Linked DNA regions of Homo sapiens: region 2 is linked to region 1. The links come from fine-mapping of genetic effects on gene expression. A gene starts in region 1. The other region holds a variant in brackets. All regions are shown on one strand. Distances are between the middles of the regions.

Region 1 (8,448 bases):
ATTTAAACAGGGTTTGCCAGGGATGTGCCAAATTGGGTGGGAAATAGCGAATGTGCCATTGGGGGGTCCTTTTCCCCCCAGCCCAGTTGTCTGGACTCTTGGGGCTTTCTGTAGGGCCCTTCTCTATGCCCCAGATTCCCGCTCTGAAGTAGGGTGGAGCCCAGGTCTTCACACGGCCAGACCTCCCTCCGTTCCTCCCAGCCTCCCCCCAGCTCTCAGGGGCTGTTGTTCCAGCAGAAACGGGGACTCTTAATTTCTTCCATGGCCTGTGTCCTCCCTGTCACCACCCTCAGTCTCAGGGAACCTCCCTGAGGATCCCAAGGGGGCAGAACCCCATCCTTACATCTGCACATCAATCTGTCCCCTTCTCCTGCCCAGGCCCTACCACTTCTGAGGGGCCTGCAGGCTCAGATCTCCACCCCAGGCTACCACAGATGTTGGTAAACCATGGGCAGGCCACGATTTTCTCTGTTTGACCTTCTTCTTCCCCCAAGAGCCTCCGTCACTTACCTAAAAAGCCTGAGAACACTTCCCCAGGAGAGGCCCTGCCTGCTTCCCTGTCCTTAGGCAAGAAGGAAGGACGTGCCCTCCCTCAGGGCTGCTCCCAAGGAAGGGCTGGAACAGCTCCTCCTCCTTGGTGGCCCTGGGGTAATTTTTCAGTCTGTTGCTATTGCCTTCAGCTGTCACTCAGTCCTCCCACTCTGCACTGGCTCCTCTTGGCTGATGTTCCTGGGAGCTCACGGTGCGGTGCAGGTACAGGACCAGCCACCACCCCCCACCACCGCCCCAGAGCTCAGTCAGTCATCACCACAGTGGGGAGCGGGGACTGCTGTCAGTTTCATTTTGCAAGGGGCCGAGTCATTTTCCTAGGATCATGCGGCAAGTAGGCGTGAAAACTGGACACAGCTGGACAGTGTTGCGTCTGCCCCCTACCCAGCAGACAGCATGCTGTATTTAGTGTGTGCCAGGTGCTCTGCTGAGGGCTTTGCAGGAATCGACTCATTTATTCCTCAACAGCTCTTCACTTAGGCATGATCTTTACCCTCTTTTTTTTGAGAAGTTAAGTAATTTGTCCAAAATCACATCTGAGAAGCGATGGAGACAGGCCTGGAACCCAGGCAGCCTGGCCCCAGCGCCTGGGATCTGAGTGGCTCCACTGCACCCCCATCCCCCGCCTCCAACTGCCCCAGGTCCACGGAAACCCCTTGTGGCCAACAAGACATTGGCCACTGTTGGGAAAATATGATTAAAGACAAAAGCTTCTCCCAGCACAGAAAACCTCATCACAAAGAAAATTTAAAAAAGGTTTATTATTGAATAAGCATTAAACCAAGATATGAGGTGCATTACAGGTAACCCACTGAGAGATTGCAAAGACAGTAAGAAGTTTCACCCTTTTATATGGCCAGGCAGGCACAATCCATGCACACATCCTCTCTCATCCCTGCGGAAAAGGACTCGATAGCGTCATTGTTTCACATGGTTCATCCTAAACTCACCTGACAACGAGGGCAACCCTCTGTGTTCATTAATTTGTTTTATACAAAGGAAAAAAAAGCTTCTCCTGCACCTGGGTTCCACCCTTCTGTCACTTACTGTGACAGGTTTTGCATCTCGGAGCCAGGCGCCTGCCCAATTCGGCTCCTTCCTCCCACTGAACACTAGGGGCGCTGTTTTCCTTCGAATTTACATCTCAAAGAGGCGGTGCCCAGGTCCTTCAGGGAAACATTCCTGAGTCGTAATGCTGGAAAAGGCTTATTTCGCTGTAAAAAGGATTTACACATATTTCAAAGAGACAAAGAAAGAACTTACACATTTTCTAAAGTAGATGCTTTAAGAAAAGGGAGGGAGGACGTCTCTTATTTTTAACAGGGAGACGGAAGCCTCTCATTTTCTATTTGTCTTGGTCCTGACGCCTCTTTGCACCAGGCCTGGCCTGTGGCGCTGCCTCCTCCTACAGGTGCAGCTGCCTCCATCTCGCTCCTGCAAACCCCAGAGTGCTCGATCCTCAAAATGACATTTGACCAGGCACCTCCCTTCTCCCAGGGGCCCACAGAAACGCCGGAGTCCTTGAGTGCCTGAGAGAAGATGGCACCCAGCCTCCTCTGTCCTCACTCCTCACTTCCTCCTTCTGTGTGTCCACGGGGCCAGCTTTGTCTGGTCCTCCTGTTCCCTTCACTTGTCCTGCCTGTCTGTGCGGGTCTGTGGCCTGAGGATGCTCCCCACCTGGGGGAGTCTCCTCCCCACCTCTCTCTGCTGTAATTCCCCATTCCTCCTACGATCTCTTCAGCCTCATGCTCGCTCCCCCTCCTCAGGGTGCCCAAAGGATGCGTTTGCTCCTTTTCTGGGGTCTTGTTGCTCACCTATTACTGTATCTCCTGTGTCAGAACACACACACTCCAGTTTGGGAGTCAGATCCATATTTGAATCCTGATTCTGCTACTTCCCATCCCACCTGTGGGACCCGGATAAGCTCCTTCACCTTCCAGAGCCTCCGTCTGACCATCTGTATAATGGTCATGTTAACGCCCACCTCATAAGGTCACCGGGAGAATTGGACTAGGTAAGGCATGAGAGGCCCCTGCCCTGGATGCAGACGGCACCCAGGGCAGCATAAATTTCCCATCCTCTTCCCCTAGCAAACTCTAGGTCCTTGAAAAATATGTGCTGTGCTCAAAGAGGAGGTGTGGAACCTTATTCATTATGTGGTAAAAAGATAAGCTTCATTGACTACTGGGAGTCTGTAACATCTGATGGCCTTACCTGGAGGTCTTATTTTTCCTCTCTGTGTTCATCACTAGGCATTTCATCTCAAGTGATTTTTCTGCAACTTTTTCTTGCTTTGCGTGAGTTCTGGCATGCTGACTTGTAAAACGAGAGGCTTTCATTCATATTGTATGACGCTTGTGCAGATGAAACCCAAGTCACCCACTCATGAATAATCCACCTGTTCTTGCCCTTCTCAAAGGATATTTTCCTGAACAATCTGAAGTCACAAACACCACCTTGAAATCTCCGGGAAGTCAATGTTGCAAACTCACTTAATTTTATTATTAAGTCTTGCCCCATGAAATATTTCTGAGATGGAGCCAACAGCCAAGGGACGGACTGAGGAGAGTTTCAGCTACGTCATCAGAGCCCCCAGCAGTGAGGGGTTCGACATAATGAACGTTGATGTGAAGATTGACACATCCTGGATATTCCAGGACATGGAAGATAGTGCTGAGGAGCGGGAATGTCTTCAGGAAGAAGCAGCTGGCCGCCCAGACATGGATATGGGTGCGCTCAGGAGGCAGCTGGAGTCCTCCGAGCAGAAGCTGTCAGCAGCAGAGGACAAGTACGTGACATCGGAGTCCGGGCTGAGAAGCAGGTAGCGATGCCATTTTGATCTCTCTGTGTGTATTTCACAAACCGCGGGGCCATCAGAGTGTGTCACCATGGTGTGTTGAATCACACCACACAGCTGGGGAAACTGGCTCACCAAAGACACGTAACCTGCCCACGCAGTCACTTGCCTTCTGCTCCTCCCGCCCTCCTTCTTCTGCTCTGTACCTGCAGATGAGGCTGCCCGGGCTCCTCTGCTCAAAGGCTTCCATTTAGGTGCAGCCAATGGGAGGCCCTGAAACGGAGGGAGGCAGGGAGAAGCCAGGTGTTCTCCCTCTCTTCTTCTCTGGGTGACTGTTCCATGAAAGGGCCCTATGTTCAAAGTGACAGGGAAGTGTAGAAGGAACTGAGAAACCAAGGACAGAGGCAGACAAATCCAGTTGGTCGGTTTGGGGTGATTTTTTTAGGGGAACTGGCAGACAGAAGCATGGTTTTAGGCAGCCGCCAGACAAGTAGATGTCCACACAGCAAACCTTCCATCCCCAACCCAGGGCTTATATCCTGGGGAAAAAGCATGTGTGCTCTGGAAGGCTTGCATAGGTGGCTACAGGCATCACAGCCTATGGTTTCTGCAATGACAAGGGTTGTTTTGGAGGAAACTCACAATGAATAGGTGTTTCTACGTAAACAGAACTATATCAACTCCACATCTTGGAGGCATTCGTGGACTCAGGGTTAGTCAAGAGTCACCTGCTGGATTAGCGTTTAAAATAAAGTCACTCTTGTTCCCACAGTGACATCTCCCACTGTGGCTGTAACTCAGATGTGCTCTCGGCTTCCTCTGCGGTCCCAGCTCCCGCTGGGTGGCCTGGCTGCTCTGCCCTGCCCTGGTAACATCGTCTCTTCCCTGTGTGGCTGTCCAGCCCCAGGGGCAGAAGTGGCTTCCGGCAGTTGCTAATCCAGGCTGCCTGTCTCTGTCTGGCCTTTGGACTCTGCTGTCATCTTTGAAATAGGTTCTCCGCATTCGTTTCTCTCTGTAGAACTTCCTGCTGTGGGCACTGTTTGCCTGATGGAGCTGACCTGGCCTCAAGGTGGGGCGTTTGAATCCAGGTCTTTCTCTAAAGCCCATCTTCTTTCCTGACGATGTCTTGACACCCAGACTGGCAGAACGAGGTTGGGCCTTGTATATAGATCAGCGAAACCCAGCATGGAAGCACAATGCAGTGACAGCGGGGATTGATTCTGACACGTTACTCATATCCCAGCAGCCACGTGCCTTGGATTTTTGCGGGACTTCCCCATTTTCTTGTACTTGCCTTTGATTTAGTAAAGGCAGACCATTGAACGTGTATGCACATGTGATTTACTTTTCTTCCTTTTGGTAAAGTTTTATGCATGAAGAAATTCACAAATCAGAAAAATTCTTCTGTTACTCTATGTGATTGCCCATTCTTTCATTCATTCTGCAACGCACTTACCCTCCGAGAGTCATATACAAAGTTATGTTAGTTTGCCTGGGTTGCCATGACAAAGCACAGTAAGTCCTCACTGAACGTTGTCTATAGGCCCTTGGAAACTGTGACTAAGTGAAGCAACCTACAACAAAACCAATTTGTTTTTGTTTTTTATTTTGCTTTGTTTTGAGATGGAGTCTTACTCTGTCACCCAGGCTGGAGTGAAGTGACATAATCTTGGCTCACTGCAAACCCCACCTCCTGGGTTTAAGCGATTCTCCTGCCTCAGCCTCCCGAGTAGCTGGGACTATAGGCGCCCATCACCACGCCTAGCTAGTTTTTGTATTTTTAGTAGAGACAGTGTTTCACCATGTTGGCCATGCAGGTCTCGAACGTCTGACCTCAAGCGATCTGCCTGCCTTGGCCTCCCAAAGTGTTGGGATTATAGACGTGAGCCACCACACCTGGCCACAAAACTAATTTGACCATAGGCTAATTGATACAAATAAGAGTTAAGTTCCTACAGCATATTTCAGGTCACAAAAACATCACCAAACTTTGAGATAAAGACCCCAAACACTTCTAATGTTAAACATTGAAATAAATGTGAAAGGCTCAAACAAATTTAGATTTAAGAAAGACTCAAAAAAACACAAGTAAGATGATTATTTACCCAATTGTTCCAGTTCAGGGTCACAGGTGGCTGAGGCCTCTCCCGGCAGCTCAGGGTGCAAGGCCTGAACAGGACACTCACACCCACGCGCACACTCACGCAGGCTGGGACTATGTCGACATGTCAAGGATGGTGACATGGGGATATGGACCCAGATTCGCCGGCTGGTCTCTAAGACCAATCACAAGTATCCTTGCGAGAGGGAGACAGAGAGGGTTGAGTCTAGGGATGGCAGTGTGGCCGCCAGTGTGGGATTGCATGCAGCTGGCTCCAAAGATGAAGGCAGGGCCAGGAGCCCAGGAATGCAGCTCTAGACCTGGAGAAGACCAGGAATTGGATTTCCCCTTCAGCCTCGGAGAGGGCTTGGCTCCACTGACAGCTCGACTAGCTCAGGAAGACTGATTCCGACTTCTGGCCGCCAAGCTTGTGGTGACGTGTTACAGCTGCAGGAGGAGACCAGGGTACCCCGAGAAAGCCCACACAGACATGGGGAGAATGGGCAAACTCCACATAGACAGTGGCCCTGGCTGGGAATCTTTTTTTTTCTCATCAACATTATAATGAAATGGCATTATTTGCAGACCTGGGTGACTTAACAAAAACTTATTTTCTCACATTTCTGGATCCCAAAAGCCCAAGCTCGGGGGGTCGGCAGGATTGGTTTCTCCTGAGGCCTCACTCCTTGGCTTGTGGACTCCACCTTCTCCCTGTGTCGTCACATGGTCATCCCTCTGTGTGTGTCTGTGTCCTCCTCTCCTCCTCTTACAAGGACCCCAGTCGGATTGGATCTGGGCCCACGCTCATGACTTTCTTTCAACTTAATTGCCTCTTTGAAAGGGCTTATCTCCAAATATAATCACATTCTAAGGAACTTGGGGGTTAGGCCTTCAACACAGGATGCAGGGATGTGTTGAGCCCATAACAGAAGTCCTGGGTGCTGAGAGTTGGGGAAGGCAGGGCCCTGGGCTGAGAGACTAGCAGCGTAGGCCCATACAGGGTTGTACATTCAAATCTTCTAGAAAGGTTGGTGGTGGAAACCAGAAGATCAATGGACCCCAGGAAGACAGGCAGGGAACTCCAACCAAAGGAGACCCCTCCATGGGGGAGGGAAAGACAGAGATTCCCAGGGGGACACCATGAGCCATAGGGAGGAGGGGCCTCTGTGACTGGGCCTGTGGGGGGATGTGGGCTCGAGTCCTCTGTTCTCTTTAAAGATGGGGTACACCATCTTGCAGAAGAGGGGTCAGGGGAGGAGAAAAGGGAGCTGGCACAGGGCTGGGCCCTCCCATACTTGCCCCATCTTGGCTCCTTTGGACCCTGTGATGCATGGGGTGACATCATCTCCTTTGACAGATGAGTAAACTGAGGCTGAGGGATGAAATACTAAGTGATCCAGGGCTGCTAAAAGCTGAGGCCAGGGTCTGAAAGCACAATTCTGAGCACAGATTTCAGGTGAATGTTGCAATGTGTTTGGGTCTAGCTGGGGCAGGGGAAAGGCTGGATAGTATGTCTTGGGTTCACATTAATTAAAGAGTTGAAGCACAAAAGTATTTCTTCTCAAAATAATATAACAGCTTTGCTAGAAATGTGAGGAAGAAAATCCCACTCCCATCTTCATAACACTATCATTTTGCATATTTATTCCCCATCTAAATGCAGTAAAATTAATAACAGCTAAGCACTTACCGAGTACTTGTTCAGTACCAAGCCACTGTTCACAGGCTTGACAAGTATTAACATAATTAACCCTTAAAACAATACTAGGCCGGCCCGGTTGCTCGCGTCTGTAATCCCAGCACTTTGGGAGGCCCAGGCGGGCTGATCACCTGAGGTCGGGAGTTCAAGACCAGCCTGACCAACATGGAGAAACCCTGTCTCTACTAAAAATACAAAATTAGCCAGGCGTGGTGGCACATGCCTGTAATCCCAGCTACTCGGGAGGCTGAGGCAGGAGAATCGCTTGAACCCCAGAAGCAGAGGTTGTGGTGAGCCGAGATCACGCCATTGCACTCCAGCCTGGGCAACAAACGCAAAACTCCATCTCAAAAAAAAAAAAAACACACAACTTAAAAACACAGTAAAAGTATCATCCACACTTGTCACTGGTTTAATCAGGGAACAGTGTTCCTTCACTGTCTATGTCATATTCGTGAGTGTATTAGCTTCCCGTGGTTGCTGTAACACGTCACCACAAGCTTGGTGGCCAGAAGTCGGAATCAGTCTTCCTGAGCTAGTCGAGCTGTCGGTGGAGCCAAGCCCTCTCCGAGGCTGGAGGGGAAATCCATTTCCTGGTCTTCTCCAGGTCTAGAGCTGCATTCCTGGGTTCCTGGTCCCGCCTCCATCTTTGGACCCAGCTGCATGCAATCGCGTGTTGGTGTCCACAGGGCCGTCCCTAAGTTCAACCCTCTCTCAAGGACACTTGTGATTGGTCTTAGAGACCAGCAGGTGAATCCGGATCCATATCCCCATCTCACCATCCTTGACTTAATCCTATCTGCAGTCTCTCTTGCATTTTAAGGTAACATTCATAGGTTCCAGGGATTAGGGCCTGGATGAACTTGGGGCCAAAATTCACCCTGCCAAAGTGAAATTCGTCATTTTCTGCTCCGTTTAAGATTAGGAATCGTATCAGAATTAAATACTGTTCTCATATTTATTGTTACAGATTGGTCTCAAAACTAGAAAGAAAGGCTTTTGTTTTTCCTAGCAAATCTCCCCATATTGTATAACTCATCGGAAAGTGCTCAGCCTGACTCTGGCTAACTGGAGCTGCTCCTGTGGTCCAGTTTGGAAGGATCTTGGTTATGATCCTCACGAGAGAGCACACTCTGGTCTGCCACCCTTGAGACCTTTCCTCAGGGCATGATAACTGGAATAGGAGAGGGACTCTTGGCCTTATCATTAATAATAATGCATCATATAATTTAATCTTCATGAAAACCTACTGAACAAGGTTAATGACCTCTATTTTATAGATAAAGTTACTGAGGGTCATAG
Region 2 (8,448 bases), 170 kb before region 1:
TCCAGAGATGAGATTTGCGAAGGTTCTGTAAAACTCAAAGTTTCCCTTTCCCTCTTCAGACTGGCATTTCGCTACCTTACGGTGCAGCCTGCTTTTAGTTTAAGGCAGCAGAAAAATGTTAGAATGCTGTTCTTCAGAAACAAACTGCATTCCTGTGGTCCCGGAAGGTCACATTTCTTATTCCATTAGCCTGGTTTTTCTCTTTCTCCCAAGCCATACCCTCCGAATGCACTGTGGAAGACAAACCTTCTTTCTGGATGTTGGCAGGACTGCTTTGTTGGACCAGGGCGCTGGGTGAGTGAGCTCATTATGCCCGGCAGTAATTGGATTTCCTCAGCAAGTCTTGGAGCCTTCCAGGCTCAGGGCTTGACGAGGTTCTTTTTGCAAACCAGATATCTTATTTTGAAAAAGGGCCTGGATGCCCCCACATTGTGCCTAATCTATTTAAACCACTGGGCAGATGGGTGCTTTCCTGACATGATCTATCTCTCCCAGGAAGTACCATAGGCACCCAGGATGAACCAAGTCTGTGAGAGCCTGTGTATTGCAGAGCCCCGGATTTTTCTATAGGGACAAATGCAAGACACTTCAGACTGAAGACACAAACAAGTCTTATTGCTGGATAGGATATTAAAAATTGGGGTGCTCTAGCCAGAAGATGGGGGAGGGATGCAGGTGCCCCAAACCTCAGGTGCCCCAGATTAATAAGTTGCTAATTTGGAATTTCACGATTCATTTGCTCCTGGGTTGTAGCTTCCCTTCATCATTGTGAGTGAGCAGAGGGCTTTGGGGGTATGCTAAGAGGTCAAGTGGCAAGGAGGTTTGGGGTGTATTAAGTCACTCTTAGGTAGGGATGTGGGCTGAACATTTTGGGGTGGTGTCTTATCTGTTTATTGTTGGAAGTGGAGAAAGGACCTCTCCTTATCAGAACCTCCTGTGCAGGTGTCTGTGAGAACAGTGCCACAGCACTTGAAAACGCCATCATTGCGGATTCTGTTCTGAATCCTGACCATCCCTCCCCACCTTAGTCTGAAGCAATGAGCTGTCTCCACACTTCCAGTCACCACATGTCACAAAGGGGATCTCGAAAATACAGTGGCCCCATTCTGCCTCCTTGTAAGAAGGTCAAGCTGTAGACTTCCAATCTTCCAACCCAGGAAGCTGGTAGTGGACATTTTTGTAGATGGTGTTCAGAGACTCTTGGATAAATAATTGATTGGCTCCCATTTACTGGAACCAAAAAGAAAAAAAAATGACAGATTTGAAAATTAGCCATTTAAGAAACTTAACATTGTCAGAAAGGTAATTCTGCTATCTACATTTAAAAGAAATACCTCTTTGAAGTCCTTGCTCCTGACTTACATGGCAAACACGGTGTCTGATTCATTTAGTGCAAAAGAAGGCAGTAATGGAAGAATAAAGGAGCAAAAATGACGTGAGGCATATTGAAAACAAAATAAAATGGAAGACATAAGTCCAACTATATCAATACTATTAAAGATGAATAGGTTAAATAAGCCAGTCAAAAGGTAGATGTTGTCAGGGATAAAATATATGATCCAAGTATATGCTATCTTGGTCCTTTCAGGCTGCTATAACAAAACACCTTAGACTGGATAGCTTATAAACAATAGAAATTTATTTCTCACAGTTCTAGAGGCTGGGAAGTCCAAGATCAAGGTACCGGCAGATTCAGTGTCTGGTGAGGCCCTGCCTCCCCATTGACAGCAGTCTTCTTGCTGTGTTTTCACATGGTGGAAGGGGTGAGCTAGCTCCCTAGGGTTTCTTTTACAAAGGCACTAATCTCATTTATGAGGGCTCGCCCTCGTGACCTAATCACTTGCCAAACGCCTCACCTTCTAATGCTATCATACTGGTGACTAGAAACATATGAATTCTGGGGGTACATAAACATTCAGATCATAGCACTGTCTATAGGAGACACACTTTAGATTCAAGGATACAAATAGATTGAAAGTGAAAGGATGAGAAAAAATATATCAGGTAAATAGCAACCATAAGAAAGCTAAGGGGCTGTACTGATATTAGACAAAATGAGTTTAAAACAAAAAAAGTTACTAGAGATAAAAAGTAACATTTTATAATGACAAGAAGTTCAATACATCAGAAATATATAACAATTATAAACATATTTGCACCTAACAACAGAGCACCAAAATATATGAAGCAAAAACTGACAGAAGTGGGCTGGGCATGGTGGCTCATGCCTGAAATCCTAGCATTTTGAGAGGCTGAGGTGGGCAGATTGCTTGAGCCCAGGAGTTTGAGACCAGCCTGGATAACATGATGAAACTCTGTCTCTACAAAAAAAATACAAAATTAGCCAGGCATGGTGTTGTGTGTCTGTAGTCCCAGCTACTTAGGAGGCTGAGGTGAGAGGATCACCTGAGCCTGGGGAGGTTGAGGCTGCAGTGAGCCGTGATTGCACCACTGCACTCCAGCTTGGGTGACAGAGTGAGAGACTGTCTCAAACAAACAAACAAAAAACCTGACAGAAGTGAAGGGAGAAATAGATAATTCAACAACAATAGTTGAATATGTCAACACCCACTTTCAATAACAGATAGAACAACTCTACAGGAGGTCAACAAGGAAGCAGGGAACTTGAACAACACTGCACACCAATTAGACCTAGTGGAAACCTATAGAACACTAGACCAAGGACATCAGAATAAATATTCTTCTCTAGTGCCCATGAATCATTTTCCAGGATAGACCATATGCTAGGCCCTAATACAACCTCAATAAAATTAAAAGGAGAGAAAACAAGCAAACAAAAAAGCAAAGCACGTTCTGTGACTACAATGCAATGAAGTTAGAAGTCAGTAGCATCAAGCCATGCCTGGCCTGTAGCTGATGTTCAGTTCTTGCCAGCCAGACACCAGAGGCCCCCACTTTTCCCTTCCTGTCTCATCCTCCATCACTCCTGCTTGCCCCTTCACTTGCCTTTGCAAACTGACTACTTGACTACTTCCCTGACTCTAACCACCTCCTTTTCCAACTTCCATGCTTTTGCTCACCATCCCACTTTCCTGGAATGCCCATTCCTTGGACTTCCCCACCCTGCTGTGCCTCCTCAGTCTGCATCCTGCCCATCCGCCTGACCTGCCCCTGGCAAGCTCCAGGGAAGCCTCGTCGGCTGTTCCTGCATTCCCCTCACTTCAGCTGGGAGCTTTCCCTGCTTAGGAGTTGTGTAATTCTCACCACAACTTGTTCGTTCTCCTTCCTGTAGCCCCTAGCCAGACACTGTGTTGAGTGGCTGGCTGTGTCCACTTTCATCTCCATTACTGAATGGAGTGCCCCTCTTCTCCCTCTTATTGTCCAGCACAATTGGAAATGACCTCCACACTGAGGTAATTAAAAAAAAGTCCAGTCTGAACTAGTGTCATATTTAATTGTAGTCTATAAATATTTTCTCAATGTAGTTTTAATAGTTTAGATAGAAAACTTGGCTGTGGGCTGTTAAAGGTATTGTCTAGAACACCTGCCTTAATGAGCCTTAATCAGGAGGGTTTGTAGTGAACAGATCTGAGAAGTGGTTCTCAAAATGAGGTCCTGGGCCAGCAGCAGCCTCACCTGGGAGCAGCTCAGAACCACAGGTCCTCTGGCCCCACCCTGATCTCCTGGATCAGGGACTCTGCAGCTGGGGTCTGGCTTTTGTTTTTTTGAGACGGAGTCTTCCTCTGTCGCTCAGGCTGGAGTGCAGTGGCGTGATCTCAGCTCACTGCAAGCTCCGCCTCCCAGGTTCACGCCATTCTCCTGCCTCAGCCTCCCAAGTAGCTGGGACTACAGGCGTCTGCCACCACGCCCGGCTAATTTTTTGTATTTTTTAGTAGAGATGGGGTTTCACTGTGTTAGCCAGGATGGTCTCGATCTCCTGACCTCATGATCCGCCCACCTCGGCCTCCCAAAGTGCTGGGATTACAGGCGTGAGCCACCGTGCCCGGCCCCTGGGGTCTGGCTTTTAATGAGCCCTCGGAGCAATTCCAATACACTCTCCAGTTTAAGAACTAGGGCAGACAGGGCTGGTTCCCACTTGTATTAGTCAGGGTTCTCGAGAGGGACAGAACTGATAGGATAGATGTATATATGAAAGGAAGTTTATTGGGATAATTGACTCACAAGATCACAAGGTGAAGCCCCACATTAGGCCATCTGCAAGCTGAGGAGCAAGGAAGCCAGTTCGAGTCCCAAAACCTCAAAAGTAAGGAAGCTGACAGTGCAGCCTTCAGTCAGTGGCCCAAGGCCTGAGAGCCCTGGCAAACCACTGGTGGAAGTCCAAGAGGCCAAACGCTGAAGAACTTGGAGTCTGATGTTCGAGGGGAGGAAGCATCCAGCACGGGAGAAAGATGGAGGCCGGAAGACTCAGCAAGTCTGCTCTTTCCAAATTCTGCCTTCTTTATTCTAGCTGTGCTGGCAGCTGATGAGATGGTGCCCACCCACACCGAGGGCAGGTCTGCCTCTCCCAGTCCACTGACTGAAATGTGAATCTCCTTTGGTAAGATCCTCACAGACACACTCAGGAACAATACTTTCTATCCTTCTGTCCAATCGAGTTGACACTCAATATTAACCATCACTCCACTTATCCTGTAGTTATGCATTCTGTTTGGCTGTTTCTAAAATAGTTGACAATTGGTTGCTTCCCTTCGATAGGCACAATCACCCCTGCTCTCTTGCTGAATCTACAGGTGAGCGCGGGGGACCCTTGTTTCCTAGAGTGCAGACAGCAGCTCTTCCCGTCCATATAGCACCCATCCCACACTGGCGCTCAGGGTGGAGGGTGTGCTTGGCTTCTAGTATTTTCTTGAGGAAGAGGGAAGGCACCCTGGCTCTTATACTGCACTTGCCTTGCCCTCTCTCCCTCCTTGTGATGC[T/A]GAGTGTGGGCTGTATTGTCATTTCTAGGAAAGGAGGGAAGGCGGCAGAGTCTGAAAACCAGCAGTGGGCTGGGAGTAGGGAGGCGTGTGTTCGAGGCATGCCCCCTTCCTGGCTGTGGTGCCTGGGAGCGGTTCTTCCTTCCCTAGGGCATTTGTGGAGTGTCTGCTATGTGCTGGGCACCTGGTTTCTGCCTATTGAGAAGGGATGATACTCACAGGACAGTGTGATACACTCACCTCTCTTTGGGTTTGTTTTCCCATCTGCAAAATGAAGTCTTTTCAAAAATAAAATTTTTACATAGCTAAACCACCCTGCTCCAATATACAAAACAGAGAAGTGATGGTTTATTCTCACATTTATCTTATGACTTTAAACTGACAACATTTACCAGTTATAAGGTCAGTCAGTGAGGACAGTGAGGTTGCTCTGATGAATTCAACTTTCAAAACGAAAAGTATAGGGTGACAGTTGCAATCTGAACAGCTGTGGCATCTTGAGTATTAATGGACTTTGTTGTGGTTGTGAAAATATTCTGTTGTGACGATTTGCATACCGCATTTGTGATTCCGTTTTTGGGAGTGACTTGTCTTGCATTCTCAGAGTGCATTTCACTGGAGATGACAGGAGAGGCTGTCCCCCAAGCCCTGCACAAAGCTGAGTGTTCACCTGGCAGCCCAGGTCCCTGCAGTGGGGTCTACCAGGGTTAATATTGGGTTTGCAGCCCATTTGAGTTGGTGTGATGTTTTCACAGTTTAAAATTATTACACCTAGAAAAAAGAAGTCAAGCATCTGTTGCTCCAGACCTTTGACTCCTGGCCCTCCCAAACATCTTCAAGGAGCACCAGGACTCCATGGAAGGTGGTTTGAAAACCAAGTCCCAGCACCCTGAGTACTGAAGTTTCTGTTCCATTTTACTTTCTTTTTTAAATTTATTTATTTATTTATTTATTTATTTATTGAGACAGAGTCTTGCTCTGTCACCCAGGCTGGAGTGCAATGGCATGATCTTGGCTCACTGTAACCTCTGCCTCCCAGGTTCAAGCGACTCTCCTGCCTCGGCCTCCCAAGTAGTTGGTATTACAGGCACCCGCCACCAAGCCCGGCTAATTTTTGTATTTTTAGTACAGACGGAGTTTCACCATGTTGGCCAGACTGGTCTCAAACTCCTGACCTCAGGTGATGCGCCTGCCTCAGCCTCCCAAAGTGCTGGAATTACAGGCGTGAGCCACTGCACCTGGCCCTGTTCCATTTTAGACATCAGCCAGCACCCCTTCGCAGGGCACCTGTATCTGTGTGTCTAGATATCTGTGGTATTGTTATCTGCCTGTATCATGTTTAGCTCTTTGTTCTGTCTCAACCTTCAAGAGTCCTTGTATTACTAAGATGGGACCTGGGAACCTGGAGCCTCCAGGACCATCACTGGCTGAGCTGAGCTGAGCTGAGCGGGAGGAAGGGCTGCCTTGGGAGCTGGCACTGGCCTGACCTCCAAGTCTCTGTGAGCAGACCTTGAGGGACCTGTGCCTTCCTAGGCATCTCCAGGTCATATCTGCTCCCTTCTTCCTCGGGATGGCTGTGGAGTTATAGGAAGTGTTTGGGGAAAGGAGCAGTTGTATCTAGAAACGGTGATATGTTTCCGAAACTCACACTGTCACTCCACTGCTCCAGGGGCTCCCCGCTGGCCCAGGATAAAGCACAGACTCCTTGTCATCACACATGTGGCCTTATCTCCTGATGCTCCTGCTGTTACCTACTGTCTCAGACCATTTGGCTGCCATAGCAGAAATACCATAGACAGAGGGGCTGAAACAACAGAAGCTTATTTCTCACCGTTCTGGAGGCTGGAAGTCTGAGATCATGGTGCCAGACAACTTGGTTCATGGTGAGGCCCCTCTTCCTGGTTCGCAGGAGGCTGCCTTCTTACTGTGCCCTCGCATGGTGGAGAGAGAAAGGAAATAAGCTCTCTTGTGTCCCCCTCCTTTTTTTCTTTTCTTTTCTTTCTTTCTTTCTTTCTTTTTTTTTTTTTTTTCTGAGACAGGGTCTCGCTCTGTTACCCAGGCTGGAGTGCAGTGGTGTAATCACTGTTCATTGCAGCTTTGAGCTCCCGGGCTCAAGTGATCCTCCCACCTCAGCCTCCCAAGTAGCTGGGACTACAAATATGCACCACCACACCTGACTAATTTTTTTAATTTTGTAGAGATGAGGTCTCATTATGTTGCCCAAGCTGGTCTTGAACTGAGCTCAAGCAATCCACCTTCCCCGGCCTCCCAAAGAGCTGGGATTACAGGTGTGAGCCACCGAGCCTGGTTTCCTGTCCCTTCTTATAAGGTCACTAATCTCATCATGAGGGCTTCACCCTGATGACCTAATTACCCACCATAGGGTTTCAATGTATCAATTTGGGGGGACATAAACATTCACTCCATAACACTGTCCCTTACCTTATTGAATCGTCTGCTTTCCCTGAACTTGCCCAGACCCCTCCTCCTCCTGTCTGCACAGGCTCATCTCCTTGGGCATCACCCATCCTCCCAAGGCCAGGGCGGGTCCCTCCCTGTACATCTGTCTGTCACAGCCATGGTCACAGTGTGTGACTGATGCCATTCACAGTCTTCTTCCCCGCTGGCTAGAGCTCTGTGAGGGAAGGGGCTGTGTGAGATTCATGTTTGAGGCTCAGCACAGGGTCTGGCATGGAACAGGCACTAGGATGCTGTTGAATGAATGAATGAATGAATGGAGCTTGCGTTGCTGCTGCTCTCCCTCTCTGATGCCAATTGACTTTTCTTTGACCCCTGCTCCTCCATCTGCATATCCTGATTTCACCCCTTCCACAGCCCACTTTGGATGTCCCTTCCCTCACCACGCTGGCACCCATAGGCCCTGGTCTCCCAGTTATCACCTGGGCTTGTTACAGTGTCTCCTTTGCTTGGCTAGGAGCTCCTCAAGGGATGGGGGAGCCACTGAGACATTGAGGGACTCTGCAAATGTCTGCACCTGAGAAGGACTTCCTTCTGTACTGAGCTGGTGGTAACCTGATAGTGACCTGGTAGTAACCTGGCAGTAAGCTCATCTTGGTTTATGTACTCCAGGCCTGTAATTAGTGTTACTCTTCGAGCCCCTGGTCTCTTCCTCTCTCAGCATGACCCTCCCCTCCACCCTTTCTGGAACTGCTTTCTTGAGAGGAAGCCTAAGAAATGTGAACTGCGTCCACCAGCACATCTCACAAAGCCTTGTGCACACAGGAGGTGTTTGGTAGGTGTCTGTCAAGGAGCGCCCTGTTCAGCATCTAGTCATATCAAGCCCACACGGGGTGGTGAGTATAGAAAGGATGTAGAAACCACAAAAAGAAGTTGCCCTTTGCTTGGAAGTCACTGACTACCCCTTCTTGTTCTTGGTGGTGTGGTTACTTGCTAGTCTCTTGACTCATTTCAGCAGAGGTGAGACAGAAACGACCTGATGGCTGGGGCCTTTTCTGGGACTTCTTAAGGGGTCTTTGCACGTTAATAAAGGGGAGATTCCAAAATGATGCAATGAGTTGGCCAAGAGCCAGCA

Evidence for each region. PIP is the estimated chance that this variant, and not a neighbour inherited with it, causes the effect.
Region 2: its variant is fine-mapped to the expression of C4orf50 in whole blood (TOPMed, PIP 0.98).

Annotation. Positions count from the first base shown.
Region 1 is chr4:6,013,067-6,021,514 of GRCh38, reverse strand. It overlaps C4orf50 (chromosome 4 open reading frame 50), which reads left to right and starts at 3,084. Exons shown (of 12, transcript NM_001364689.3): 1 at 3,084-3,370. The coding sequence starts at 3,084.
Region 2 is chr4:6,180,888-6,189,335 of GRCh38, reverse strand. All of the region lies in intron 1 of JAKMIP1 (janus kinase and microtubule interacting protein 1), which reads left to right. Among named protein-coding and RNA genes, the nearest start is that of JAKMIP1, 15 kb to the left of the region's middle. RefSeq lists an enhancer at 8,268-8,448. The variant T/A (reference allele first, on the strand shown) is at 4,899.